Regions from separate parts of the Homo sapiens genome. Here all the other regions are linked to region 1. Evidence: fine-mapped expression QTL. A gene starts in region 1. Each other region holds a variant in brackets. All regions are shown on one strand. Distances are from middle to middle.

Region 1 (7,361 bases):
TTAGTATAGGATCTCCACAAGGTCAAACATGAAAAGCAAGAACCAAGTTGGGTGCAGTGGCTCATGCCTGTAATTCCAGCACTCTGGGAGGATTGACTTAAGCCTAGGAGGTTGAGGCTGCAGTGAGGTATGATTACACCACTGCACTTCAGCCTGGATGATATAGGGAGACTCTGTCTAAAAAAAAAAAAAAAAAAAAATTCCAGGCCGGGTGTGGTGGCTCACGCGTGTAATCCCAGCACTTTGGGAAGCCGAGGCAGGTGGATCACGAGGTCAGGAGATCGAGACCATCCTGGCTAACTGAAGGGGTGGGTTGCCCCTCCACACCTGTGGGTGTTTCTCGTAAGGTGGAACGAGAGACTTGGAAAAGAAAAAGACACAGAGACAAAGTATAGAGAAAGAAATAAGGGGACCCGGGGAACCAGCGTTCAGCATATGGAGGATCCCGCCAGCCTCTGAGTTCCCTTAGTATTTATTGATCATTCGTGGGTGTTTCTCCGAGAGGGGGATGTGTCAGGGTCACAAGACAATTGTGGGGAGAGGGTCAGCAGACAAACACGTGAACAAAGGTCTATGCATCATAGACAAGGTAAAGGATTAAGTGCTGTGCTTTTAGATATGCATACACATAAACATCTCAATGCTTTACAAAGCAGTATTGCTGCCCGCAGGTCCCACCTCCAGCCCTAAGGCGGTTTTTCCCTATCTCAGTAGATGGAACGTACAATCGGGTTTTATACCGAGACATTCCATTGCCCAGGGAGGGGCAGGAGACAGATGCCTTCCTCTTGTCTCAACTGCAAGAGGCATGCCTTCCTCTTATATTAATCCTCCTCAGCACAGACCCTTTACGGGTGTCGGGCTGGGGGCAGTCAGGTCTTTCCCTTCCCACAAGGCCATATTTCAGACTATCACATGGGGAGAAACCTTGGACAATACCTGGCTTTCCTAGGCAGAGGTCCCTGCGGCCTTCCGCAGTGTTTGTGTCCCTGGGTACTTGAGATTAGGGAGTGGTGATGACTCTTAAGGAGCATGCTGCCTTCAAGCATCTGTTTAACAAAGCACATCTTGCACCGCCCTTAATCCATTTAACCCTGAGTTTGACACAGCACATGTTTCAGAGAGCACGGGGTTGGGGGTAAGGTCACAGAATCTCAAGGCAGAAGAATTTTTCTTAGTACATAACAAAATGGAGTCTCCCATGTCTACTTCTTTCTACACAGACACAGTAACAATCTGATCTCTCTTGCTTTTCCCCACACTAACACGGTGAAACCCCGTCTCCACTAAAAATACAAAAATTATCCGGGCGTGGTGGCAGGAGCCTGTAGTCCCAGCTACTTGGGAGGCTGAGGCAGGAGAATGGCATGAGCCTGGGAGGCGGAGCTTGCAGCGACAGAGCGAGACTCCGTCTCAAAAAACAAACAAACAAAATTCCTGTCAAGAATCTGATGAACAGTTATTTTATTTTATTTTTTATTTATTTATTTTTTTTGAGACGAAGTCTCGCTCTTCTCCCCAGGCTGGAGTGCAATGGCGCGATCTCGGCTCACTGCAACCTCCACCTCCTGGGTTCAAGCGATTCTCCTGCCTCAGCCTCCCAAGTAGCTGGGATTACAGGCGCCTGCCACCACACCGGGCTAATTTTTGTATTTTTAGTAGAGACGAAGTTTCACCATGTTGGCCAGGCTACTCTCGAACTCCTTACCTCAGGTGATCCACCTGCCTCGGCCTCCCAAAGTGCTGGGATTACAGGCATGAGCCAACGTGCCCGGCTGATGAACAGTTATTTAAAAATATTTGAGCAAAGAATAAAAAAGGGCTGAGCGCGGTGGCTCGCACCTGTAATCCCAACACTTTGGCAGGCCAAGGCGGGTGGATCACTTGAGGTCAGGAGTTCGAGACCAGCCTGGGTAACATGGAGAAACGCTGTCTTTACTAAAATTACAAAAATTAGCTGGGCGTGGTGCTGCACACCTGTAGTCCCAGCTACTCGGGAGGCTGAGGTGGGAGGATCACTTGAGCCTGGTAGTTTGAGGCTGCAGCGAGGTATGATTGTGCTACTGCACTCTAGCCTGGGCAACTGGAGTGACACCCTGTCTCAAAAAAATAAAAAACAGAAAAGTAAAAAAGGCAGAACTGTTCAGCTTCATTGCTCAGTTCACCAGGAGAAACATTTTTTTTTTAAAGTGGTTTCAAGAGGATTTCCTCATGGAAGAAGCATTTCAATAAGGGGACCGTTGAACAACAGAACTAATGATTTTTTTTTAACGTTAATATTTATTTTGAGATGGAGTCTCGCTCAGTCGCCCAGGCTGGAGTGCAATGGCGTGATATCGGCTCACTGCAACCTCCGCCTGCTGGGTTCAAGCGATTCTCCTGCCTCAGCCTACCCAGTAGCTGGGATTACAGGCGCCCGCCATCATGCCCGGCTAATTGTTGTATTTTTAGTAGAGACAGGGTTTCACCATGTTGGTCAGGCTGGTCTCGAACTCCTGACCTTGTGATCCGCCCACCTCGGCCTCCCAAAGTGCTGGGATTACAGGTGTGAGCCACCACGCCCTGCCATATTATTATTATTTGAAACAGGAAGTTTCTCCTAGGGCTGTTTTATGGATGGCTCTTCCTGAGGATATCAAAGCCGCATTTTCCCCAGGACAGAATGGGATGAGGGCATGGCAGGGAAGAGAGGAGCTTAGCCTGGGAATCTGACTGGGTAAGGGGTGGGAGAACTAAAAGGGGAAAAGCAAAAACAAAACTCTTGAGAAACACGTCCTGGGGACTCCTTGGCTCTCGCTGTCACTGTGTGGTCCCAGCCAGTTCACTGGAGAACCGGAGTCTCGTGGCTGCTTTGGCTGAAAGTCAGGGGATCATCTTTCTCTGGCTCCCTTTTGCAGAGGGTAAGGAAAGGAAGCGATGGCGGCCTTGGCGCCCGCCCTGCGCCCAGGGACACAGACCGGAATCCCTCGAGACGCTCAGCGGGGACTGCCAGGGGGGTCCTGCGTTCTGCAGCTTGGCAACCGCTTCCTCCGGGTTCTGCAGCCCGGGGCAGCGGCGGGGGTTGCGTCCTGCGGCAGCTGCAGGGCTCCGTCCCGCCCGCTGTCCCCGCGACTCGGTACTGCTGTCCCGGGCGGAGTGGACTGGGGAGGGCCCAGCCTCCGCGCCCCGCCCCTGGCCCGGCGGGACCCGGCTCGGCGCGCCCTCGGCAGAAAGCCCTCCTCCCGGGCCAAGGTAGAGGAAGTTGGGCTCCCGCCTGGCTGGGAGGCGGGAGGGATCCCGCTCCTGTTGTTTTCCGCCGGCAGGAGTAGGCTGGCGGGCGCAGGGGGCGGGGTGCGCCCTCCCTCCCCGGCCAGGGCGCTCGGGAGCGGGGACCCGAGCCTGCAGCCGAGCTCCGCTGCCGGCCCTGGACACTCGGCTCAGCCAAGCATCCTTCCTGGGGGCCGAGGAAGTGGGGCCACTCTGCCGTTCCGAGGACCTGGGAGGAGCCCTCGGTACCCCGGGCCCCGGGGCCCTGGGGCACACACGTCCAGCCCAGCCCGAGCCTGCGTTTCCTGAGCCGGGATCTGGGGCGAGATGGCCGCAGGCGGCAGTGCGCCCGAGCCCCGCGTCCTCGTCTGCCTCGGGGCGCTCCTGGCCGGCTGGGTCGCCGTAGGTAAGGGGCCGCGATCTGGAGGGAAAAGTTGAGTTTTCCCAGTCAGCGGTGGGGAGGGGACAGCGAGAGACCCAATTCCCTCCGACTCCGCCCGGATCCGTGGTGGCCCCAGCCTAGAAGCTGCCCCAGGAGGGTCTTGGTTTCCTGCTCGCAGCTCGGCCGTCTTTGCAGGAAGGAGTTTTCCCGGGCGCCCGGTGCGGGGCGAGATACCCCCAGCCTCCTGGGGTGGGCAGCCGGTGAGGCTGCAGAGGAGCCGAGCCGAGCCGACGTGCGGGGGCAAAGTAAAGAGGCACGTGTGCCGGGAAAGTGATTTTTTTTTTTAAGCGTCGGATGTAAATTCGCGTTCTGGTTTTAGTAGTAACTGATACGCTGGTGCTCAAACTCGAGACTCCCACTTTATTTTTCTCCTCCCTCTGCCCAAGGTTGAACTCGCCTTACACCTGTAACCGGTGGACTTCCCTACACACCTTTGCAAGTCTTCCTGTGCCGACCAGCGCCTTCAAAGCGGGGTCTTCCGCCTTTACTTTTGGAAAAGCTTTTTATTTTGAAATACTTGGCTGACTTACAAAAGACTTCCCCTCACACTTGACATGATTGACAAAAGGTCTGAAATGCTTCATCTATGGTCTGCTTTGCTACGAAAAAAGAATTGGAGGGGTGCTTACAAAAATATGTAGAATGTAAAAAGATTGAACTATTTATATATATTTGAATTTAATTCACCAGCATGCCTACTGTGCATGCCTACTGTGTGCTGGGAGTGTGACAAGCTGGGAGGAGGCTGGGGTGCAGGGAGAGGAGATGGAGCCAGGAGGTGGTGAAGTTTGCCAGGATGCAGGCAGAGCGCTACTTTTTGTGTTCCCGGGTCTGCTCCACCCAACGGGTCTCCTCTTGCACGTTTCTGGAGATGGGTTGTAAAGTATGCTGGAGCTTCTTAGCAGCAAGTGCCAAGAGTTCCTAATTATTAGGCTCATACAATTTTATTTTGCTTTTTTTTTTTTAACCAACCATTTAAAAACAATAACATCTCTAGATTTCCAGTTTATCTGGAAAAATCTGAAGGTCTGGCAACACGGGGCCTGCTTTCCCAGTTGGAATTGGGCAGTGGTCATCCTCTTATCTAGGGCATATGAGCCCAAATTTGTTCCACCTCTCCCTGTTGTAATATTTGCCCCGCCACCTTCAGTCATGGGTGTTACCTGCTGGCCCTGCAGGCATTTGGCTGAGTAATCACTGTGCTGGGGTGTGGGTGATGGGGGAGGACAGTTCCTAGTTGGTCATCTCTGGACGTGAAAGGTGGTTGTCAAGTATTCCCATCTCCCCAGCTGTTTGCAGTGTTTCCTGCACGATGAACACCAGGAACCTGGGAAGTGAGAAGAACCCTGGGATGAAGTCATCCTGCTGGAATGACCTGGCTTTCAGGCTGACTGCCACCCGCCCCATGGGGAACCTATCTCCACTGCTATGGCCAGCTATTTTTTTCGAGCCAGGCTCTCGCTCTGTTGCCCAGGCTGGAGTGCAGTGGTGCAATCACTGCACTGATCCTCCCACCTCAGCCTACAAGTAGCTGGGACTACAGGCGTGCACCACCACGCCTAGCTAATTTCTAAAATTTTTTTGTAGAGACGGTCTCTACAATCGCTTGAGCCCAGGCTGGTCTTAAACTCCTGGACCCAAGCGATCCTCCTGTCTCGGCCTCCCAAAGTGTTGGGATTATGGGTGTGAGCCACCGTGTTGGGCCTTTGCCCAGCTATTTTGATGCCCAGACCTGCTTCACCTTTGTGTATGATGCCAGGGGGCTTCCTGAGCTTGGTGTATTTTTGTTGTGTGTTTGTTTTTTAAGTTGGGAGTTTTTGGGGAAAAAAATTTTTCTCCTGACATTCAATGCCAGACAACTTATATGCATCCACTAGCTACCCCGGATTGTAAATCCTAGGTTATTCTTGGGAAAAGTTGCTTTAAAAAAATAAATAAATGTTTGGGTATAACTCCTACTCTGTAAATAATAATACATGGGCAGCATCAGGGAGTTTATATTACTCCCTCTTCGGTTCTCTATTGTACATTTAAGGTTGGGGGGCAAGAAGGACCCTCTGGACACCATATGAATGACTTCTAAACTTGTTACTATATTTTATCATTGCATCCTGTCTGGTGCAGGAGACCAGAGTAACGTGACCTGAGTGACAATCCCACATCTCCCAGTGATTTGCTTGGGACTTTAAGTGATAACTTAATCTTCCTAAATCTCAATTTTCTCAGTAGTAAAGTGAGGAGGTTTAGGACTGCCAGGCAAGAACTACCCCTTCCATGTCTATGTCAGACATCACTAAATCGATGACTGTGTTCTTTTCCACTGAACCAGGACTCAATCTCATCTTCAACCCAGCCCACAGGGCAGCCACATCTCTGGACTAGATGATCTCCAAGGGCACCTTCAGATACAGTGGTTTAAAAAAGAACGGAGTAAGCCAAACCAGGAGAAGTGAAATGTCTTCAAATGGTTTCTTTTGTGATCATGTCATTCTATGCCTTGGAGGAGAAAACAATGTTAGCTCAAGTTCCAAGACTAAAGTTTCACCACGGCTTTTTTCCAAGCCACTGTTCCTTTATTTCTTTGCCAAGGAGTTAGGCAAGGGGCAGGTCTGCAGGTTGCATGAACACATGTTGCATCTGTAACTCTGAAGTTCATCTTCCTTTCCATTGTGGCGGTTGCCACTGGATAATTTGGGTTCCCAATCCTAATAATTTAAAAATAATTCTTGGCTGGGTGCGGTGGCTCCCGCCTGTAATCCCAGCACTTTTGGAGGCCGAAGTGGGCAGATCACCTGAGGTCAGGAGTTCAAGACCAGCCTGGCCAACACAGTGAAACCCTGTCTCTACAAAAATACAAAAACTTAGCGGGGCATGATGGCGGGTGCCTGTAATCCCAGCTACTCAGAAGACTGAGGCGGGAGAATTGCTTGAACCCAAAGGCAGAGGTTGCAGTGAGCCGAAATTACGCCTTGCACTCCAGCCTAGGCAACAGAGCGAGACTTCATCTCAAAAAAAAAGTAAATAAATAAATAAAAAGAATTCTTATCTGCTTTTTTTTTTGAGACAGAGTCTTGCTCTGTTACCCAGGCTGGAATGCAATGGTGCGATCTTGGCTCACTGCAACCTCCGCCTCCCAGGTACAAGGGATTCTCCTGCCTCAGCCTCCCGAGTAGGTGGGATTACAGGTGTGCGCCACCACGCCCGGCTAACTTTTTGTATTTTTAGTAGAAACGGGGTTTCACCGTGTTAGCCAGGCTGGTCCCGAGCTCTTGATCTTGCCCACCTTGGCCTCCCAAAGTGCTGGGGTTACAGGCAGGAGCCACCACGCCCGGCCATTCAGCTAATTTTTAGTAGAGATGAGGTTTCACCATGTTGGCCAGGCTGGTCTCCAACTCCTGACCTCAAGTGATCCACCTGCCTCGGCCTCCCAAAATGCTGGGATTACAGGCGTGAGCCACCGCCCCCGGCCCTCACCTGCTTTTTAAAGTGATTGCTCAGAAGCATTTCTTGCTGTTTTGGAATCTCTGTCATTAGATGGCATTCTCCACCTTTCAGCAAGTGGCTTAGTTTTTAAAATTTGGTGTTTTGTTTGTTTGTTCGTTTGTTTTCATCCTGACTTGGCTGAAAAGTCTTGGGAATGGTGTGGCCAAAATGGTGAGAGAATCAGAACTTC
Region 2 (7,361 bases), 63 kb before region 1:
ATTAGCCCAGATTGACAGTAATACACAGAATGATTTGAACATAGATTCTCAATGGGGGTGATAACGCCCCCAGTGGGTGAAAGTGGGTTCCTGTTGGGGTGCGGTGACCTAGGTCTTATTACAGCTTCAAAGGACCACAGTGCATAAACAGATACACAGTTTACCTGTGGTATTAATATTTCAGTGATGGGGATAATTAAGGGAGAAAAAGCCTAGAAAGCCTCCTTATAGGGGCAATGATGAAAAAAAAAACTGCTTGAGAAACACAGGATTAGAGAGAAGAGACTAGTAGCAGGAAATAGGATATGGACAAGGCTGGTGGTAGTGGCTGTCAGAGCAGTAGATTCAAAACACCATTTGAAGTTTAAAGTAAACAGGACTTGACATATACTAAGATACGAGAGAGGCCGGGCGCAGTGGCTCACTCCTGTAATCCCAGCACTTTGGGAAGCCGAGGCGGGCGGATCACGAGGTCGGGAGATGGAGACCATCCTGGCTAACATGGTGAAACCCCGTCTCTACTAAAAATTCAAAAAAATTGGCTGGGCGCAGTGGCAGGCATCTGTAGTCCCAGCTACTCGGGAGGCTGAGGCAGGAGAATGGCGTGAACCCGGGAGGCGGAGCTTGCAGTGAGCAGAGATTGCGCCACTGCACTCCAGACTGGGTGACAGAGGGAGACTCCGTCTCAAAAAAAAAGATATGAGAGAAAAGATGATGGAATCAAAATTATTTCTAGGGCTTAACACTAGGGGAAATGAAGATGTGGTAGAAACAGAGAAGAGATTAAAGAGAGGTTTTGGTAAGAAGCTGACTCAGGCCGGGCATGCTGGCTCATACCTATAATCCCAGCACTTTGGGAGGCTCAGGCAGGCGGATCACTTGAGGTCAGGAGTTCGAGACCAGCCTGGCCAACATGGTGAAACCCCATCTGTACTACAAAAATTAGCCAGGCGTGGTGGTGGGCGCCTGTAATCCCAGCTACTCGGGAGGCTGAGGTGGGAGGATGGCTTGAACCCAGGAGGCAGAGCTTGCAGTAAGCTGAGATCATGCCATTGCGTTCCAACCTGGATGACAGAGTGAGACTGTCTTTAAAAAAAAAGGGGGGGGGGTGGGGGTGGGCGTGGTGGCTCACGCCTGTAATCCCAGCACTTTGGGAGGCCAAGGCAGGTGGGTCACCTGAGGTCAGGAGTTCGAGACCAGCCTGGCCAACATGGTGAAACTCTGTCTCTACTAAAAATACAAAAATTAGCCAAGTGTGGTGGTGGGTGCCTGTAATCCCAGCTACTTGGGAGGCTGAGGAGGGAGAATCACTTGAACCTGGGAGGCAGAGGTTGCAGTGAGCCGAGATCGCGCCATTCCACTCCAGCCTGGGCAACAAGAGTGAAACTCTGTCTCAAAAAAATAGAAAGAAAGAAAGAAAGAAAGGAAGGAAGGAAGGAAGGAAGGAAGGAAGGAAGGAAGGAAGGAAAGCAAGCAAGCTGATTCAGTACTGCACATTTTGAGTTTGTCAGAAGTCAAAAAATCAAAATGAAAAAGGCTAATGGCCAGTTGGAAATAAGTCATTTGGGAGTCTTTTCATGTAACATTTATTGTTATTCTAATAATAGATATTTGGAGGAAGTCTGAGGCTAAGGGGACAATTCATGTCAATAAAAGTTACAGAAGATAATTACTCCCTAAAAATGATAGAAACTATATTGGTGACTTCATTAGTATTAGGTTCTAGCCAGTTGAGCAAAAAATAACTCTGTAAGAGTATTTTTCTTAAAAGTCTAGATTTTCTTTTGTTTAGTCTTATTCCAGAGCCCACCTTCATGAAAATGTTCAAAGCTTTTTTATTTACAAAAGTAACTCAAGAACATTGAAAATAGACGAAAACAGAAACACATAAAGCTAAGTAGTGAAAGTTCTTTTTAACAGTTTTATTGAGATATCAACATATAAAAATTGTATGTATTTACGGTATACAACTTGATGTTTTGATATATGTATACATTGTGAAATAATCACCACATGAAAGCTAACTAACATATCCATTACCTCCGCATAGTTACATTTGTGTGCATGTGTGCATGGGGTTGAGTAGGGAGATTTAATTTAGGACTTGTCCTCTTAGCAAATTACAAGCATGTAATACAACATTGTTAACTATCATCACCATGCAGTGAGTGCATTAGAGCTCCAGTAATTATTCGTCTTGCATAACTGGAACTTTCTACCATTTGACCAGCATCAGCCCATCTTCACCTTTTCGACAATCCCATTCCACCCAATCTCTACCCTCAAACAGTCTCCATTAATTTGGCATGTATATTTCTAGGTTTTTTTCTATATACATATGTACAGCTATATTATATATGACTTTACAAAAATGAGATTACTTTTGTATCAGTAGGATTATTTGATTTGCAAGCAATAGAAATAAACTCTGGCTGACTTAAGGCTGAAAAGGAATTTATTGGAAGGATATGAGGTAGGTAAAGAGCTGAAGAACTGAGCGGGAAAACATGAAGAGCCACGCTGGTAAAGCAACTTCCATGACACAGAGAGCAAGGGCTCATGTGCAGTTCTCCAGGCACTGCCATTTCAGTGTACCTCCTCCAACCACTTTTTGTCTTTGTATCGTTTCTGTTCGAGATTAAAATTCCTAGGAGAGATATAACTTGATTGGGTCATGTGCTTATGCCTTATTCAACACTCTCTCTGATTCCAGATAAGGGGGAGTCATTTTGCAAAAAAAGGAAAAAAAAAAAAAAGAGCCTATAAAGAGAAGCAGGAAAAATGGAAGCTGAGCCTTACAAAAAGTAACAGATGTCCACTCCACTGTTTTGTAACTCTTTTTTCCATTTACCTTCCAGCACGTACAGCTCTGCTTCATTCTTTTTCATCTAATAGTATTTTGTTGTATGGCCTCAATATCATTTATTTAATGAGACACTTCTCGGTGGACATTTTGTTGAAGTTTTACAGTATTATTAATAATATAAGAACATTGTTGTACATAGATATTTTTACATGTAAACAAGTATTTTGGGGGATACATTTTCGGAAGTGGAATTCCTGGGTCAAAGAATGCATACATCTAAATTTTTAAAATAAATATCACTAAATTGCTCTCTAAAGGAGTTTATACTCCCACCAACAAAGCACAAGAATGCCTGGTTTCCTGTGTCTTTGCCTAAAGGATTGAGTATTAGCAATCCTTTTAATTAGTGAAAACAAGAAGATCACTGAAACTGGGTTGAGCCTCTTTCTCTATCACCAACACACACAGACACTCAGCATTTTCTGACCAGTGTTGAAACTAAGAACTGAAACTAAGAAGGCATTAAATGTCATAGGCTGACAGCATCTCTATTTAAAAGTTAGAATTCTCGTTTTTACTCAACCTCAGTGAGCCTGAGCATAAAAATTTGGCATGAGTGAAATCCGCTGCTTTTAAAGAAGTCAATACTACTTCCATTAGAAGTTAGAGTGCTTGAAACACACTGGACATTGACCGAGGGAAAGGAAGCTGCATGTATCTTATCCCACACTCCCTCCAGGGCTTATACGTGTGTGTGTGTGTGTGTGTGTGT[A/G]TGTGTGTGTGTGTGTGTGTATATATATATATACACACACACACATACATTGAGTACATGGGTGGGCAGAATGATCTGTACCATTAAAACTGATTTTTTAGTTTTTGCTCAGCTCATTTTGTTAAATTTGTATAAGCTAAAGGTGCACATGATGTGGCTCTAGTGTGTATATTGTGTCATTTGTACAAATAAAGTAACCATTGTATCATGTCTAGCTAGAGCAGAATTCTTCAAAATATTTTATCACAGACTGAAAAAGTATAAAACAGGAAAGTATGCCATTTATTAGAACTTTTTTTTTTTTTTTTTGAGACGGAGTTTCGCTCTTGTTGCCCAGGCTGGAATGCAATGGCGCAGTCTCAGCTCACTGCAACCTCCGCCTCCCGAGTTCAAGTGATTCTCCTGCCTCAGCCTCCCAAGTAGCTGGGATTACAGGCATGTGCCACCACACCTGGCTAATTTTGTATTTTTGGTAGAGACAGGGTTTAACCACGTTGGCCAGGCTGATCTCGAACTCCTGACCTCAGCTGATCCACCTGTCTCAGCCTCCCAAAGTGCTGGGATTATAGGCATGAGCCACCGCGTCTGGCCTCATTTATTGGAACATTTCTAATGGAAAATGCTGAGAAGCTAAATACCTGAGTTTTAGCCTCAGTTCTCTTTATAGAAGTTGTGTAACTTTATGTTAGTCCTTCAACTCCCAAATGCCTACTAACACATATAAAAGGGGGAAATCCTTACAGTCTTATCACCTCATAGGGTGGCAATTTGGATTGAATGAGATGTATGGAATAACTTTTAAAAATGGAAAGCACATTAAACATTATTATGTAGGCACAGCACTGGCCTCATAATAAGGTGAATAATTTTTCCCCCATGTCTCAAATATTAAAGGTAGCTTACCATCTTACACCTCAGCAACTCAGATGTACAAATTAAAGGTGAAGGGAACAACTTGTAACAGAAAAGCCATTTCAGTATCATGTTTTTCTTACTCTTCTAATAGTTTATAAAAACTAGATTTAAGATATTATATGCCATGTATTCCCTTCTGAATAGAGAAAAATAATGACATTTATGTATTCTGAAGCACTTTCTTATGGTCTTTCATTTTATCTTTACAACTACGATAGTTCACAATGTGTACTGCTATCCTCATTTTACACCTGAAATACAGATTAAGAGACTTGCCCCAAGCCATACATAAGACTTATAGAGGAGCTGAAACTGACTCACACCCTTAGCACTTTTCCATTGATTCTCAAACTTTCATATATATCAGAATTAGCTGCGTAGCTTGTTATAGAGACTAGTCCCTTATAACACAGGTAATTCGGATGTAGGTATTCTGTGGACAGTATCTTGAAGCATTTCATTAAGCAGGAAGAGAAGCACTTGATTTCTTCTGAAGGTGTTTGCTTGCTTTGTGTGTTTTGCTTTGTGTCAAGAGCCCATGAGTTTCAGGGCTCTTAGCAACTCAGGCTCAGTTTGCATTTCTCAATTTAGGAAAGTGTGGGATGAATAAATGCCTGGTGTTGGGACTCCTGGACCTCAATTAAAGTCCTCATTTAAAGGGCTTTCCTTGGCCTGGGAGAGCTTTCGTCTGTGGGAAGGGCTCTCCATCCTTTGGTGCCACCTACGGGCCAGTTACTGCTTTGTAAAAAAGAAATTTGATGGTCTAGGTAAAGAAGAAAAATAAAACAAAGGAAAACACGGGAGGAGATGAGAGAGATAACTCTAAGGGCTTATTTTTTATTCCTTAAAACAAATTTAAATTGTATTTATACTTTGGGTTTTTTCTCCTTATAAGGTCGCTGAGGGGGTGTACATGTTCACTGTTCTATCCCTAGTTCCTACAACAGTGCCCAGCACATAGTAGGTGCTCAATAACTACTTGTTGAATGAATAAGTGAATGATTAGTGACTGTACTCTAGTACTAGATGCTGTGCTATTAAAAGGATTTCTCTTCAATCAATAGGGAGCCCAAGTGTGCAAGATATTTCCAACCACGCCAGTATAAAAATGTTATCGATGATATCTATTAAAATAAATAATTTGCATTTTCTCCTATAGTGGATGCCATCAGAGAAGAGAGGCCCTCTATTGTTCTAATTTAAAGTACAGCTGAGGCTGGGGCATGGTGGCTCACGCCTGTAGTCCCAGCACTTTGAAAGGCCGAGGCGGGTGGATCACCTGCGGTCAGGAGTTTGAGAACAGCCTGGCCAACATGGTGAAACCCCATCTATACTAAAAATACAAAAATTAGCCAGGCGTGGTGGTGGGCACCTGTAATCCCAGCTACTCGGGAGGCTGAGGCGGGAGAATTGCTTGAACCCTGGAGGCGGAGGTTGCAGCAAGCCAAGATCGCACCATTGCACTCCAGCCTGGGCAACAAAGTAGAAACTCCGTCTCAAAAATTTAATAAATAAGTATAAATAAAGTACAGCTCAAAAGCTTTCTCCTTTCCTTGACGTTCTTTTGTTTGTTTGTTTGTTTCGTTGTTGTTTTTCTGTTTTTTTTGAGACGGAGTCTCGCTCTGTCCCCCAGGCTGGAGTGCAGTGGCGCGATCTTGGCTCCCTGCAAGCTACGCCTCCCGGGTTCACGCCATTCTCCTGCCTCAGCCTTCCGAGTAGCTGGGACTACAGGTGCCCGCCACCAGGCCCGGCTAATTTTTTTTTTGTATTTTTAAGTGGAGACGGGGTTTCACCATGTTAGCCAGGATGGTCTCGATCTCCTGACCTCGTGATCCACCCGCCTCGGCCTCCCAAAGTGCTGGGATTGCAGGCGTGAGCCACCGCCCCAGGCTCCTTGACCTTCTTAATAGTAATACTGCTAGGTCGGGCACGGTGGCTCACGCCTGTAATCCTACCACTTTGAGAGGCCAAGGCGGGCAGATCACCTGAGATCGGGAGTTCGAGACCAGCCTGACCAACATGGAGAAACTCCATCTCTACTAAAAATACAAAAGTTAGCCAGGCGTGGTGGCATGTGCCTGTAGTCCAAGCTACTCTGGAGGTTGAGGCAGGAGAATTGCTTGAACCTGGGAGGCGGAGGTTGCTGTGAGCCGAAGTCACACCATTGCACTCCATTGCACTGGGCAACAAGAGCAATACTCTGTCTCAAAATAATAGTAATAATAATACCACCCTTTTCAGAAATCTTATAGCATAAAATCTTTACCCCTTTTATAGCATTCATCACTTATCCAACATTGCTCTCTCTCTTTTTTTTTTTTTAATTTGGACGTAAAACTTATTTCCTGGCTGGGCATGGTGGGGTGGCTCATGCCTATAATCACAGCATTTTGGGAGGTTGAGATGGGAGGATCACTTGAGTCCAGGAGTCCGAGACCAACCTGGGCAACATAGTGAGACCCCATCTCTACCCCCACCCCCCCCAAAAAAAAAGTATGTCCCTGTATTAATTAAGATTTTTTTGTTTGCATGTTAACTGAAATTTATTTCAGCTAGCTTAAGCCAAAACCAGGGAAATTACTATAGAAATACAGGAATGTCTTATAAAATCGAATAGCAGTAATACAGCTAGACCTACTGGAGGGCTCAGAAGCAGTAAGTAACTTAGGCATCAGTATATTCCCTGCACTTCTTTCTTTTCCTTTCTTCTTGATCTGAAGCCCAGCTTTCTCTAATCCTCAGCCCTCATAGCAGCAGATGACTACCACATATGTGGTTTTTATATGCCTTAATTCCAGCCACACATAGAGATTAACTGGTTCTGAATATCAATTCCAAATTCCGAGTAGAGAAAATAAATTGACCCAG
Region 3 (7,361 bases), 24 kb before region 1:
CCCAGCACTTTGGGAGGCCGAGGCGGGCAGATCGCTTGAGGCCAGAAGTTCAAGACCGGCCTGGCCAACATGGTGAAATCCCGTCTCCACTAAAAATACAAAAATTAGCCAGTCGTGGTGGTGGGCACCTGTAATCCCAGCTACTCGGGAGGCTGAGGCAGGAGAATGGCGTGAACCCAGGAGGTGGAGGTTGCAGTGAGCCAAGATCGCGCCACTGCACTCCAGCCTGGGTGACAGAGTGAGACCCTCTCTCAAAAAAAATAAAATTAGTGATCATTCAAACCAGAATCATGACAATCTTTGTGAAGAATGGCTTGCTTTGTGTCTTAAACAAGACAAGCTGCAGAATACCTGCCATGCCCACAGCCCCTAGGACATCCTCAGGGGCCCTTCCACTGACACCCCTCCCACCTTCATCCAATTCAAAGGCTTCTCAAACCACCTATGAAATGGCCTGACTCAACAGCATGACCTGGACCAATCAGAGTTGACTATTTTTGTTTGTTTGTTTTGTTTTTTGAGACACAGTTTCATTCTTGTTGCCCAGGCTGGAGTGCAATGGCACAATCTCGGCGCACCACAACCTCCGCCTCCCGGGTTCAAGCGATTCTCCTGCCTTAGCCTCCCAAGCAGCTGGGATTACAGGCATGCACCACCATGCCCGGCTAATTTTGTATTTTTAGTAGAGATGAGGTTTCTCCATGTTGGTCAGGCTGGTCTCGAACTCCCGACCTCAGGTGATCCGTTCACCTCGGCCTCCTAAAGTGCTGGGATTACAGGCATGAACCACTGCGCCCGGCCACTTATTTTTTTTAAAATCACAGTTTATCCTTTTATCTGTTGATGAACTTTGGGCTGTTTCCAGTTTTTTTACTACTATGAATAAACTCCTGTAAACATTCTAGTATATCTTTTTGTGGACATGTATCTTAATTTCTCTTGGGTAAATATCCAGGAGTAGGATTACTGGATTATATGGTGTTTAATTTTGTAAGAAACTGTCAAACATTTCTCCAAAGTGGGTGTACCTTTTTTTTAAGCTTTATTTATTTATTTTTATTATACTTTAAGTTCTAAGGTACATGTGCACAATGTGCAGGTTTATTACATATGTATACATGTGTCATGTTGGTGTGCTGCACCCATTAACTCATCATTTACATTAGGTATTTCGCCTAATGCTATCCCTCCCCCAACCCCACGACAGGCCCCAGTGTGTGATATTCCCCACCCTGTGTCCAAGTGTTCTCATTGTTCAATTCCCACCTATGAGTGAGAACATTCGGTGTTTGGTTTTCTGTCCTTCGACAGTTTGCTCAGAATGATGGTTTCCAGCTTCATCCCAAAGGACATGAACTCATGCTTTTTTATGGCTGCATAGTATTCCATGGTGTATATGTGCCACATTTTCTTAATCCAGTTTATCATTGATGGCCATTTGGGTTGGTTCCAAGTCTTTGCTATTGTGAATAGTGCCGCAATAAACATACATGTGCATGTGTCTTTATACTGGCATGATTTATAATCCTTTGGGTATATACCCAGTAATGGGATCGCTGGGTCAAATGGTATTTCTAGTTCTAGATCCTTGAGGAATCGCCACACTGTCTTCCACAATGGTTGAACCAACGGTGTAAAAGTGTTCCTATTTTTCCACATCCTCTCCAGCACCTGTTGTTTCCTGACTTTTTAATGATCGCCATTCTAACTGGTGTGAGATGGTATCTCATTGTGGTTTTGATTTGCATTTCTCTGATGGCCAGTGATGATGAGCATTTTTTCATGTGTCTGTTGGTTGCATAGATGTCTTCTTTTGAGAAGTGTCTGTTCATATCTTTTGCCCACTTTTTGATGGGGTTGTTTGATTTGTTTTGTAAATTTGTTTAAGTTCTTTGTAGATTCTGGATATTAGCCCTTTGTCAGATGGGTAGATGGCAAAAATTTTCTCCCATTCTGTAGGTTGCCTGTTCACTCTGATGGTAGTTTCTTTTGCTGTGCAGAAGCTCTTTAATTAGATCCCATTTTTCTATTTTGGCTTTTGTTGCCATTGCTTTTGGTGTTTTAGACATGAAGTCCTTGCCCATGCCTATGTCCTGAATGGTATTGCCTAAGTTTTCTTCTAGGGTTTTTATGGTTTTAGGTCTAACATTTAAGTCTTTAATCCATCTTGAATTAATTTTTGTATGAGGTGTAAGGAAGGGATCCAGTTTCAGCTTTCTACATATGGTTAGCCAGTTTTCCCAGCACCATTTATTAAATAGGAAATCCTTTCCCCATTTCTTGTTTTTGATAGGTTTGTCAAAGATCAGATGGTTGTAGATGTGTGGTGTTATTTCTGAGGGCTCTGTTCTGTTCCATTGGTCTATATCTCTGTTTTGGTACCAGTACCATGCTGTTTTGGTTACTGTAGCCTTGTAGTATAGTTTGAAGTCAGGTAGCGTGATGCCTCCAGCTTTGTTCTTTTTGCTTAAGATTGTCTTGGCAATGCAGGCTCTTTTTTGGTTCCATATGAACTTTAAAGTAGTTTTTTCCAATTCTGTGAAGAAAGTCATTGGTAGCTTGATGTGGATGGCATTGTCAGATTCGACTTTTTAATCAGCACTAGTGCCTAAGGAGAAACAGCTGTTGTGAATGGTAGGAGCTAATATAGAATGGAGGTGATACTTAGAGACTACAGAGGGGCCATCAAAAGCTTTGTAGGGCCGGGCATGGTGGCTCACACCTGTAATCCCAGCTCTTTGTAAGGCCAAGGTAGGAGGATCGCTTGAGCTCTGGAGTTTGAGACCAGCCTGAGCAACATAGTGAGACCCTGTCTCTACACAAAATACAAAAAAAAATTAGCTGGGCCTAGTAGCATGGGCCTGTAGTCCCAGCCCCACAAGGCTCTTAATGGTCTCACATTCCTGAGCTCAAGTGATCTCCTGCCTTGGCCTCTCAAAGTGCTGGCATTGCAGGCATGAGCCACTGCGCCTGGACAAACTGGTATTTTAAAAGAAGAAGGCCAGGTGCAGTGGCTCATGCCTGTAACCTCAGCACTTTGGGAGGCTGAGACGGGTGGATCACCCGAGGTCAGGAGTTTGAGACCAGCTTGGTCATCATGGTGAAACCCTGTCTACTAAAAATACAAAAATTAGCCAGGCCCGGTGGTGGGCACGTGTAATCCCAGCTATTTTGGAGGCTGAGTCAGGAGAACTGCTTGAACCCGGGAAGCGGAGGTTGCAGTGAGCTGGTATCGCACCACTGCACTCCAGCCTGGGCAACAAGAGCGAGACTCAGTCTCAAAAAATAAAAAAATAAAAAGAAGAAGAAGAAGAAGAAAAGTAATTTGTTCATGTACTGAGATGCTGGTGGGTGATTGGCTTCAGGAGTGTCTGGATCCAGGGACTTACCTAATACCTTAGGTATCTGTCTCCCTCCTGTGTTTCCACCTGTGGGGTGGTTTCAATTTCAAGTAGACTCCTCCTTCATGTTTCCAGATAACCATTCTGGTAGACAGTTTCTAAGATGGACCCAGTGAACCCCACGTCCTGGTATTCATGGCCCCGTGTGCTCCCCTCCCCTTGAGTAACTTGCTTCTAATCAATAACATAACATGTAAACGGGATGTCACTTCTGATTAAGTTATGTAAGGCTGGGTCAGGTGCAGCAGCTCACGCCTATAATCCTAGCACTTTGGGA[A/G]GCCGAGGCAGGAGGATTGCTTAAGCCCAGGAGCTCAAGACCAGCCTGGGCAACATGGTAAGACCCCCATCTCCCCCAAAAATTAAAAAATTAGCCAGGTGTGGTGGCACACCTGTAGTCCCAACTACTGAGGAGGCTGAGGCTGGAGGATGGCTTGAGCCTAAGAGTTCAGGGCTACAGTGAACCATCATCACACCACTGCGCCCCAGCCTGGGCGACAGAGCAAGACCCTATCTCAAACAACATATGACGTGCGGACAGGATGTCACTTCCGATTCCGTTGTATAAGGCTGTGGTGGGCTGGGCGCGGTGGCTCACGCCTGTAATCCCACCACTTTGGGAGGCCGAGGCGGGCAGATCACGAGGTCAGGAGATGGAGACCATCGTGGCTAACACGGTGAAACCCCGTCTCTACTAAAAATACAAACAATTAGCCGGGCGTGGTAGCGGGCGCCTGTAGTCCCAGCTACTCGGGAGGCTGAGGCAGGAGAATGGCGTGAACCCGGGAGGCGGAGCTTGCAGTGAGCCGAGATCGCGCCACTGCAGTCCAGCCTGGGCGACAGAGCAAGACTCCGTCTCAAAAAAAAAAAAATAAATAAATAAATACATAAATAAGGCTGTGGCTTCCATCTTGCTAGCACGCGCTCTCCATTACTTTCTCAGCTTGCAGGCCTCTGGGAAGCAAGCCATCGTGTGGCAGAGGCCCAGGTGGCAAGGAACCAAGGGCGGCTTCTGGCCAACAGCCAGCGAGGACCTGAGACCGTAGCCCAACACCCCTCCAGGAACTGAATTTTGCCAGCAACCAGTGAGTGACCTTGGAAGTGGATCCTTCCCCCGAAAGCCCGGCTTTCAGGTGAGTGGGGAGTACGAGTCCTGGCTGAAAACCTAGGTGAGATTCTTCAGGCCTGCCTGACTGTGGGCAATGATGAAGGCTTTCCCTGGCCGGCCTCGGGGAAAGCTGCCCTCCCCACACCACACTGGGTGCCCAGCCTATGCACTGCAGTGTCTGAAGGGAACTGGAGTCAGAGACTCCAGTGGCCCTGGCCGGCCATGCTCTTGAACACATTTGCATTCCTAGCCAGGCAGCACCTTTGATCCTAGGTCTCTTTATCTGGGGCCTTGGGCAGAGGTCTTCTATGGGGCTTCTGCCAAGGCCCCCTTCTAGGGATGGGAGCGGGAAACCTTGAACCCACTGTTTCCTACCCTGATTTCATACCTAGTACTTTTCCACTCTTAGCCCTTATACCATCACAGTCAAGTGATAAAGCCTTTCCTCTTTCATTTTTGGCTTATTGCTTTCTATCTTTTTTATTATTTTTTTTATTTTTTGAGACAGGGCCTCGCTTTGTCACCCAAGCTGGAGTGCAGTGGTGCAATCATGGTTCACTGCAGCCTCAACCATGTGGGCTCAAGTGATCCTCCCACCTCGACCTCTTGAGTAGCTAGGACTACAGGTGTGCACCACCATGCCCTGCTAATTTTTTTATTGTTTTTTTTTTTTTTTTTTTTTTTTTTTTGGAGAGACAGAGTCTCACTATGTTGTCGAGGCCGGTCTCAAACTCCTGGGCTCAAGTGATCCTCCTGCCTTGGCCTCTCAAAGCGCTTGGATTACAGGTATGAGCCCAATACACCTGGCCAATGGCTTATTGCTTAATTGGCTATTTGGACACCTGACACCTCAGCTTGCCCTCCCAGCTTGACTAAGGTTTTGACAATGAGACCCGAGACCTGGCTGAGACCTTATTGAAACCTTGCGAGACCCTGGGTCAGCGGAAGACCCAGGTCTGGTATCCCCAAACCCCTGATCTATAGAAATTATAAGATAATAAAGGCCGGGTGTGGTGGCTCACGCCTGTAATCCCAGCACTTTGAGAGGCCGAGGCAGGCAGATCACCTGAGGTCAGGAGTTCCAGACCAGCCTGACCAACATGGAGAAATCCCATCTCTACTAAAAATACAAAATTACAGCTGGGTGTGGTGGCTCACCCCTGTAATCCCAGCATTTTGGGAGGCTGAGGCGGGTGGATCACGAAGTCAGGAGATCAAGACCATCCTGGCCAACATAGTGAAACCCCGTCTCTACTAAAAATACAAAAAAAAAAAAAAAGGTGAGCGTGGTAGCAGGTGCCTGTAATCCCAGCTACTCAGGAGGCTGAGGCAGGAGAATTGCTTAAACCCAGGAGGCAGAGGTTGCAGTGAGCTGAGATCGTGCCACTGCACTCCAGCCGGGGAGACAGAGCTAGACTCCCTGGGTGACAGAGTGAGATTTTGTCTCAAAAAAAAAAAAGAAAGAAAGAAAAGAAAAAGAAATACAGGTAGGAAACGTAAAGGCAAAAGATGTCTTCTGCAAGTAGCAAATGAGTGATGCACACACCAATGCAAAGAGCTTGTTAATCAGCCTAAGAGAGCAGCATCTAAGTAGCAGGTGAGTAAGCCCCTTGCGTGTGTACACAGCTAATATTAATTATGTATGATACTGGCCACTTAATTAAAACAGACTCCATCTCTACTTATCAAAATGTTATGAGTTTCTGCAAGCTCCGGAATTTTCCGCAAGCTCCGGAAATTAAGAAACTGTATTCATTAAAACACATCAACCTGGAATTTATTTCTACTTCTCCAACTGTTTTGACTTAGTCATGTTTATCTGTAGTGAACATTTGACCAAAAGTTCAAGGTAAGTAAACAAAGAGATTAGATTAAAAAGGGTTGCCAAGCCAATTCCCTAGAGTTGGATCAAAGTTCTAGAAGGGCAAATGTCACATATACAGAAATATGACTGGGCACCATGGCTCACACCTGTAATCCCAGCACATTGGGAAGCCAAGGCAGGTGGATCATTTGAGGGTAGGAATTTGAGACCAGCCTGGCCAACATGGTGAAACCCTGTATCTACTAAAAATACAAAAAAGCCGCACATGGTGACACACACCTGGAATCCCAGCTACTCAGGAGGCTGAGGCGGGAGAATTGCTTGGACCTGGGAGGTGGAGGTTGCAGTGAGCCGAGATCATGCCACTGCACTCCAGCCTAGGCAATAGAGCTAGACTCCATGACAAAAAAAAAAAGAAGAAAAAATTCAAAAATTAGCTGGTGGGGTGGCAGGGTGCCTGTTGTTTCAGCTATTCAAGAGGCTGAGGTGGGCCGGTCGTGGTGGCTCACACCTGTAATCTCAGCACTTTGGGAGGCCCAGGTGGGTGGATTACCTGAGGTCAGGAGTTCGAGACCAGCCTGACCAACATGGAGAAACCCCATGTCTACTAATAATACAAAATTAGCCGGGCGTGGTGGCGCATGCCTGTAATCCCAGGTACTGGAGAGGCTGAGTCAGGAGAATCGCTTGAACCAGGGAGGTGGAGGTTGCGGTGAGCCCAGATCATGCCATTGCACTCCAGCCTGGGCAACAAGAGTGAAACTCTGTCTCAAACAAAACAAAACAAACAAACAAATATATATGTATGTGTGTGTGTGTGTGTATATATATATATATATATACACACACATATATACACACACTCATACACATACATACATGCCTGGCAAAGTGGCTCACATCTTTAATCCCAGCACTTTGGGAGGCCAAGGCGGGCAGATTGCTTGAACCCAGGAGTTTGAGACCAGCTGAGCAACATGGCGAAACCCCATTTGTACAAAAAATGCAAAATTTAGCCAGGTGTGGTGGC
Region 4 (7,361 bases), 30 kb after region 1:
AGGCAACAGCAAACGCAGAGGCCCTGAGGTGGAAACAAACTTGGCATTTGAGGACCCGAGAGAAGACCAGTGTGGCCGGGGCATCGTGTGTAAAGTACTGATAAAGCTGGGTGGAGGTTGGGGGTTCAGTTGTGTCCCCCCAGTAGATATGTTCAAGTCCAAACCCTAATACCTGTGGATATGACTTTATTCAGAAAGAGTCTTTGCAGATGGAATCAAGTTAAGATAAGGTCATAGTGGATTAGAGTAGGCTGTAATCCAATGACTGATGTCTTTCTTTGTAAGAAGGGAGAAGGCCGGGCGTGGTGGCTCACGCCTGTAATCCCAGCACTTTGGGAGTCAGAGGCAGGAGGATAGCTTACGGCTAGGAATTCGAGACCAGCCTGGGCAACACAGACCTTGTTTCTACAAACAATAAAAAATAAATAAAGTAGCTGGGCATGGTGGTATGCACCTATAATCCCAGCTACTGGGGAGGCTGATGTGAGAGTATTGCTTGTACCTAGGAGGTTGAGGCTGCAGTGAGCGGTCACTCCAGGCCTGGGTGTCAGAGTGAAACTCTGTCTCAAAACAAAAAAAAGGGAAAGGTAAGAGAGATCAGAAGCGCCAGGATCAGTCAGATGTGGTAGCTCATGACTGTAATCCCAGCACTTTGGGAGGCCAAGGACGGGCATATTGCTTGGGCCCAGGAGTTTGAGACCAGCCTGGGCAACACAGCGAAACACCATGATATGGTTTGGCTCTGTGTCCCCACCCAAATCTCATGTTGAATTGTAACTCCAAATATTGGCAGAGGGACCTGGTGGGAGGTAATTTGATCATGGGAATGTATTTCACACAAACACTAACACTAACGATAGGTGATGAGCCAAAAAAAAAAAAAAGGGACCGTGCATAATTTTCATGATATCCATCACACAGATAAACAAAAATGTCCTCACATTCAAAGCCATCCTGGGCCGAATTTAGCCCGCAGCTGCAGGTTGGAAAAGCTTGCTCTAGAGCGTCCAAAAGGAACCAGCTCTGCCAACATCTTGATGTTAACCTTGTAAGACGTTCTAGACTCCTGGCCTCCACAACTGTTAAGAGAATAAATGTGCTTTAAGCCACTAAGTTTGTCACAATCTATTACATCAGCAATTGGAAACAAATACAGCTGCCCTCTTGTCCCCTTGAAATCCTTGTCAGATATGTGTCCATTTTTATACGATCAGTACAGTTTTTATGTGTAAAAGTGTATAGCATAGAAGGAAGGCTTATGGATACAGTAGCCAGTTTATCCTGGTTTGCACAGAACTCTCCTGGTTTTAGGACTGAAAACTCCTCATTCTGGGAATACTCCACGTCCTGGGCAGACTGGGGCAGTTGATCACTCTGAATCCTAGCTGCATTGCCTATTTAGTTCTGTAGCATTCAGCAAATTACTTAACTTTCTCTGTGCCTCAGTTTCCTTATCTGCAAAATGGGCATAATAACAGGGTTGCTGTGAGAGTGAATTGGGTTAATACATGTAACAGTGCCTTGCCCACAGTAAATGCCTAGTAATCTTAGGCTTATTATGATGTAAGACGAGGTGTGGTGGAGAAATTTCTGGAGTTGGCCAGGCACGGTGGCTCATGCCTGTAATCCCAGCACTTTGGGAGGCCAAGGTGGAGGATCATTTGAGGTCAGGAGTTCAAGACCAGCCTGACCAACATGGTGAAACCCTGTTTCTACTAAAAGTACAAAAATTAGCCAGGCATGGTGGCAGGCACCTGTAATCCCAGCTACTTGGGAGGCTGAAGCATGAGAATCACTTGAACCTGGGAGGCAGAGGTTGCAGTGAGCCAAGATCACAGCACTGCACTCCAGCCTGGGTGACAGAGCGAGACCTTGTCTCAAAAACAAAAAAAGAAAAAAAGAAATTTCTGGAGTTGCTTCATTAGGAAGGAAATGTAGTGTTCCTGCCTTACCCATGAGGGATATGTTCCTAGATCCCCAGTGGATGCCTGAAGCCATGGGTAGCACTGAACCCTATATATATATATACACACACACACATATATACACACACACACATATATATATACACACATATATACATATATATACATATATATACATATACACATATATACATATATACACATATATATACATATACACATATATACATATATACATATATATACTATGCTTTTTCTTATACATAAATACTTATGATAAGGTTAATTTATACATTAGGCACAATAAGAGATTAACAATAGTAACTAATAAAAAATAGACAAGTATAACAATATACTGTCATAAAAGGTATGCGAATGTGATCTTTCTCTCAAAATATCTACTCAGCCTTCTTGTGATGAAGAAAGGCTCATGCAGATGGTGTGAGATTTCGTCACACGACTCAGAACAATGTGCAGTTTAAAACTTAGGAAATTGTGAATATACTTAAAAGTACTGCAAGAAATGAAAAAATAAAAAATTTATGAATTGGCCCGGCACGGTGGCTCACGCCTGTAATCCTAGCACTTTGGGAGGCTAAGGCAAGTGGATCACCTGAGGTCAGGAGTTTGAGACTAGCCTGGCCAATATGGTGAAACCCCGTCTCTACTAAAAATACAAAAATTAGGTGGGCGTGGTGGCTCATGCCTGTAATCCCAGCCACTTGGGAGGCTGAGGCAGGAAAATCTCTTGAATTCAGGAGGTGGAGATTGCAGTGAGCTGAGATTGCATCACTGCACTCCAGCCTGGGCGACAAAGTGAGACTCCATCTCAAAAAAAAAAAAAAATTGTTCATTTCTGAAATTTTCCATTTAGTATTTTTGGACTGTAGTCAACCATGGTAACTGAAACCTCAGAAAGTGAAATCACAGATAAAGGGGACTGGGGCCGGATGCGGTGGCTCACGCCTGTAATCCCAGCACTTTGGGAGACTGAGATGGGCAAATCACCTGAGGTTGGGAGTTTGAGACCAGCCTGGGCAACATGGTGAAACCCTGTCTCTACTAAAAATACAAAAATTAGCCAGGTGTGGTGGCGCATGCCTGTAATCCCAGCTCGGGAGGCTGAGGCAGGAGAATTGCTTGAACCCGGGAGGGAGGCAGAGGTTGCAGTGAGCTGAGATCGCACCACTGCACTCCAGCCTGGGCAACAGAGCAAAACCTCCATCTCAAAACAAAACAAAACAAAACAAAAAACTACTGCAGTTTTCCTGCAGATCTCAGGCCATGACTTGAATCTCTTTAAACATTTGTCTTTGTTTACCTTCTGATCACCAGGGGGTCCCTCCCTTCTCTCTGAGCCCATGAAGACTTGCTTCACTGGGGGCAATGTGACGCTTACATGCCAGGTGTCTGGGGCCTACCCCCCTGCCAAGATCCTGTGGCTGAGGAACCTTACCCAGCCCGAGGTGATCATCCAGCCTAGCAGCCGCCATCTCATTACCCAGGATGGCCAGAACTCCACCCTCACTATCCACAACTGCTCCCAGGACCTGGATGAGGGCTACTACATCTGCCGAGCTGACAGCCCTGTAGGGGTGAGGGAGATGGAAATCTGGCTGAGTGTGAAAGGTGAGTGGTGGAACTGGGCCTGAAGGAGGGAGGGTTCAGAGCTTCAGAGCACCCAGCATCAGCATGAGGACAGCCTGGTGCCTCCCTACAC[A/G]TGGGTCACTGCCAACTGGGAGAAGGCATATCTGCTTGCTTATGACTTGACAAGGTGGCTGGAAGAAATTATCCAACCCTAAACTCACTAATATTTCCATAGGTAGCAAAAATTACATAATATCTATACACACCAACGAATAGATATCTAGTGTATGTCAGTTGTAAAGCATAACAGCAAAATGAACACCTAAGAAACTATCATCCCACTGAGGATACAGAATAGTACCAACATGCATTAGGTTACTTGTATGTCTCAGGGCCAGATTTGGAAACAACGATAGGGCTGGGCACAGTGGCTCACGCCTGTAATCCCAGCACTTTGGGAGGCCGAGGCGGGTGGATCACTTGAGGCCAGGAGTTTGAGACCAGCCTGGCTAGTATGGTGAAACCTCGTCTTTACTAAAAATACAAAATTACTTGGGAGGCTGAGATGGGCAGATCACCTGAGGTTGGGAGTTCGAGACCATTAGCTGAGCATGGTGGCAGGTGCCTGTAATCCCAGCTACTCGGAAGTCTGAGGCAGAATTGCTTGAATCTGGGAGGCGAAGGTTGCAGTGAGCCGAGATCACACCACTGCACTTCAGCTTGGGTGACAGAGCGAGAATCCACTTCAAAAAGAAGAAAATAGCAATAGAACTTTAAAAACAGGATGCCTGCTTAAATTTGAGTTTAGAAAAATAAATACTTTTAAGTATAAGTGTGTCCCAAATATTTCATGAGACATACTTACACTAAAAAAACTATTCATTGTTTATCTGAAATCCAAATTTCACTGGGCATACTGAATTTTACCTGGGAACCCTCCCTGTAGGCCTAGTCTCATCTTGGGCCTCTCTCGAAAGGTAACCATGGTCCTGAATTTTAAGTTTTACTATATATGTCTCTACTTATTTCTTTTTATTTTATTTTTTATACAGATGAGGTCGCACTGTGTTGACCAGGTTGGTCTTGAACTCCTGGCCTGAAGTGAGCCTCCCATCTCAGCCTCCCAAAGTGTTGAGATTGCAAGCATGAGCCACCACACCTGGCCTCTTTCTTCCCTTCCCTTCTCCCTTTTCCTTTCTCTTCTCCCTTTTCCCTTTCCTACCTTCCTTCTTTTCTTTCCCTCCCCTCCCCTCCTCTTTCTTTCTTTTTTTTTTTTGAGACGGAGTCTTGCTCTGTCACCCAGGCTGGAGTGCAGTGGTGCGATCTCGGCTCACTGCAAGCTCCACCTCCTGGGTTCATGCCATTCTCCTGCCTCAGCCTCCCAAGTAGCTGGGACTGCAGGCGCCCGCCGCTGTGCCCGGCTAATTTTTTGTATTTTTAGTAGAGATGGGGTTTCACTGTGTTAGCCAGGATGGTCTCGACCTCCTGACCTCGTGATCCGCCTGCCTCGGCCTCCCAAAGTGCTGGGATTACAGGCGTGAGCCACCGCGCCCGGCCCTCTTTCTTTCTTTGAGATGGAATTTCGCTCTTGTTGCCCAGGCTGGAGTGCAATGGCGCGATCTTGGCTCACCGCAACCCCCGCCTCCCGGGTTCAAGTGATTCTCCTGCCTCAGCCTCCCAAGTAGCTGGGATTACAGACATGCACCACCACACCTGGCTAATTTTGTATTTTTAGTAGAGACGGGGTTTTAACATGTTGGTCAGGCTGGTCTCGATCTCCCGACTTCAGGTGATCCGCCCTCCTCAGCCTCCCAAAGTGCTGGGATTACAGGCATGCGCCACTGCGCCCGGGCTCTAGTACCAATTCTTAAATAGTGCTTCCTTTGCTCAAGACCCTGTCATATATCAATTATACTTACGTGTGGACCCGTTCCTGGACTCTCTGTTCTGTTCCGTTGATCACTCTGTTTATCATGGCATTGATAACTCTCAACACTCTTACTTACCATGGCCTTAGAAATAGTCTCAGTGTTTGGTAGACAGAGAGATTTTAACTTTCCATTGTTTGTTCACATTCCCTGCTCCATCTGATCCCCACAAACTCTCTGAGGTTGGGTGATAAAATATTTATCTGGCATTACAGACAGGTCATAAGCCTTACCCAAGGTCAGGAATCAAGACAAGAACTGGATCCACGCAGAGAAAGGGAGGTGTTGTTCTAATTGCACACATATCTGATGGAAGAATCAATGGTGTGATTTGTCTTTACAGAACCTTTAAATATCGGGGGGATTGTGGGAACCATTGTGAGCCTCCTTCTGCTGGGACTGGCCATTATCTCAGGGCTTCTGTTGCATTATAGCCCTGTGTTCTGCTGGAAAGGTAAGGACTCCCTGGGTCCTTTAGCTTCTCTTCCAGACTTTTGAAAAGGTGCGGGATGGGGAAGGATGGCCCCTGCCTTGCTCCCACCTGAAGTTCTGTTCTCTGGGCTTCTTTGCTGGGTCAAGATACACAGTAATAAGTCACCTAAGTACCATCCCGGGACACCCTATCACCTGTCATATTGAGTCAGTTTTCTTATTTGTTCCTCTAGTAAATGTTTGCCTGATTAAGAACCTGTCAGGTTGAAGTGGATGTTACTGGATATTAATGGTTTTTCCTTTCTCTCTTCAGTAGGAAACACTTCCAGGTGAGTGTTCCCTAGAATCAAACCAAACACCCATTCCCGCATCTGTCTTCACTTCTGTTTTGTTCCCTTCCTTTCACAAGAACAATAATAGCAACTACCATTGAGGACCTACGATGTGCTAGACACTGGCCTAGGGATTTCATCAGGTATTCTTATAAACCCTTTCATCATCTCCTCAGGGTGGTGGTGACATCTCCATTTTCCAGATAAGGGGATGGAGGCTCAGTGAAGTAATTTCTGCAAGCTCATTCCAGAAGAAAGCAGCAGTGCCTTCCTTCAGGTCCAGGTCTAATCAATTCCAAAGTCTGTGTTCTTTTACAGCGCCAAACCTCAGGGCTGGACACATTGCAGGTCTGTCATTGAGACAGAAAGACAATGTGTACATTTTGAGCCAGTCATTCATGCATTTGTTTTATTTAATTTTCTAAAAAGAGCTAAAAGAAAGAATCAGTCATAGTCTTAAGTTTTTTTTTCTTTTTCTTTTTTCTTTTTTTTTTTTTTTTTGAGACAGAATCTCTCTCTCTTGCTCAGGCTGGAGTGCAGTGGTGCAGTCTCAGCTCACTGCAATCCCTACCTCCCAGGTTGAGGCCATTCTCCTGCCTCAGCCTTCCGAGTAGTTGGGATTACAGGTGCGCACCATCAAGCCTGGCTAATTTTTGTATTTTTAGTAGAGACAGGGTTTCACCATGTTGCCCAGGCTAGTCTCAAACTCCTGGCCTCAAGTGGTCTGCCCGCCTCGGCCTCCCAAAGTGCCGGGATTACAGGCACGAGCCACTGCACCCAGCCAGTTTTACAGTGTTTTGGAAGACTACTATGAGCATGCCCAGAACCCCCTCCCAAAAGGAAACCCCAGTAGGGGCGAAGGAACCAAACGGAACTTGTGTATTTCATTTCCTAAGGAGATTCTGGGTGGGAGCAGAGTACTCTTCTCTATGATCCTATGGAAAAACAGTTCTTTACCTCTTCAAAATGACAGGATATTATTGACCTGGGACCATCTTTCGTAGCAAAACATTACCTTTACTGCCCTGTATTGGAGGGCCATTCTTAGTAAGTCTGTCATTCCCTGGGCTTATTTCTCACTGGAGGCATCAGTGTGGTGTAGTAGGAAAAGGCACTGAGACCATTGGACCTGGGTTCAAATGACAGCTGTGCCATTC

Alleles and levels. Alleles are on the strand shown, and positions count from the first base shown. SD is a standard deviation of normalised expression in the study named. Not every link is listed here.
In carriers of allele G in region 2, the expression in prefrontal cortex of the gene that starts at base 3,234 in region 1 tends to be lower than with A alone (moderate effect, 0.47 SD a copy in ROSMAP).

The links. PIP is the estimated chance that this variant, and not a neighbour inherited with it, causes the effect. A credible set is the group of variants that fine-mapping cannot tell apart.
Region 2: its variant is the best candidate, but not a certain one, in a credible set for the expression of VSIG10 in prefrontal cortex (ROSMAP, PIP 0.61).
Region 3: its variant is the best candidate, but not a certain one, in a credible set for the expression of VSIG10 in whole blood (INTERVAL, PIP 0.57).
Region 4: its variant is the best candidate, but not a certain one, in a credible set for the expression of VSIG10 in lymphoblastoid cells (GTEx, PIP 0.77).

Annotation. Positions count from the first base shown.
Region 1 is chr12:118,099,884-118,107,244 of GRCh38, reverse strand. VSIG10 (V-set and immunoglobulin domain containing 10) reads left to right here and starts at 3,234. Exons shown (of 9, transcript NM_019086.6): 1 at 3,234-3,652. The coding sequence starts at 3,574. LOC124903029 (a long non-coding RNA gene) reads left to right here and starts at 3,663. Exons shown (of 2, transcript XR_007063478.1): 1 at 3,663-4,256; 2 at 4,978-5,640. RefSeq lists an enhancer at 784-1,499 and a silencer at 3,141-3,390.
Region 2 is chr12:118,163,065-118,170,425 of GRCh38, reverse strand. The region is part of intron 17 of TAOK3 (TAO kinase 3); the gene reads left to right. Among named protein-coding and RNA genes, the nearest start is that of PEBP1, 31 kb to the right of the region's middle. RefSeq lists an enhancer at 3,131-3,240 and a silencer at 3,481-3,530. The variant A/G (reference allele first, on the strand shown) is at 3,579.
Region 3 is chr12:118,123,651-118,131,011 of GRCh38, reverse strand. LOC101928274 (a long non-coding RNA gene) reads left to right here. Exons shown (of 4, transcript XR_945409.4): 2 at 4,342-4,531. Among named protein-coding and RNA genes, the nearest start is that of PEBP1, 8.8 kb to the left of the region's middle. RefSeq lists enhancers at 3,962-4,498, 4,674-4,968. The variant A/G (reference allele first, on the strand shown) is at 3,679.
Region 4 is chr12:118,069,892-118,077,252 of GRCh38, reverse strand. It overlaps VSIG10 (V-set and immunoglobulin domain containing 10), which reads left to right. Exons shown (of 9, transcript NM_019086.6): 5 at 3,261-3,554; 6 at 5,784-5,894; 7 at 6,186-6,201. It overlaps LOC124903030 (a long non-coding RNA gene), which reads right to left. Exons shown (of 2, transcript XR_007063479.1): 2 at 1-1,079. Among named protein-coding and RNA genes, the nearest start is that of WSB2, 12 kb to the right of the region's middle. The variant A/G (reference allele first, on the strand shown) is at 3,646.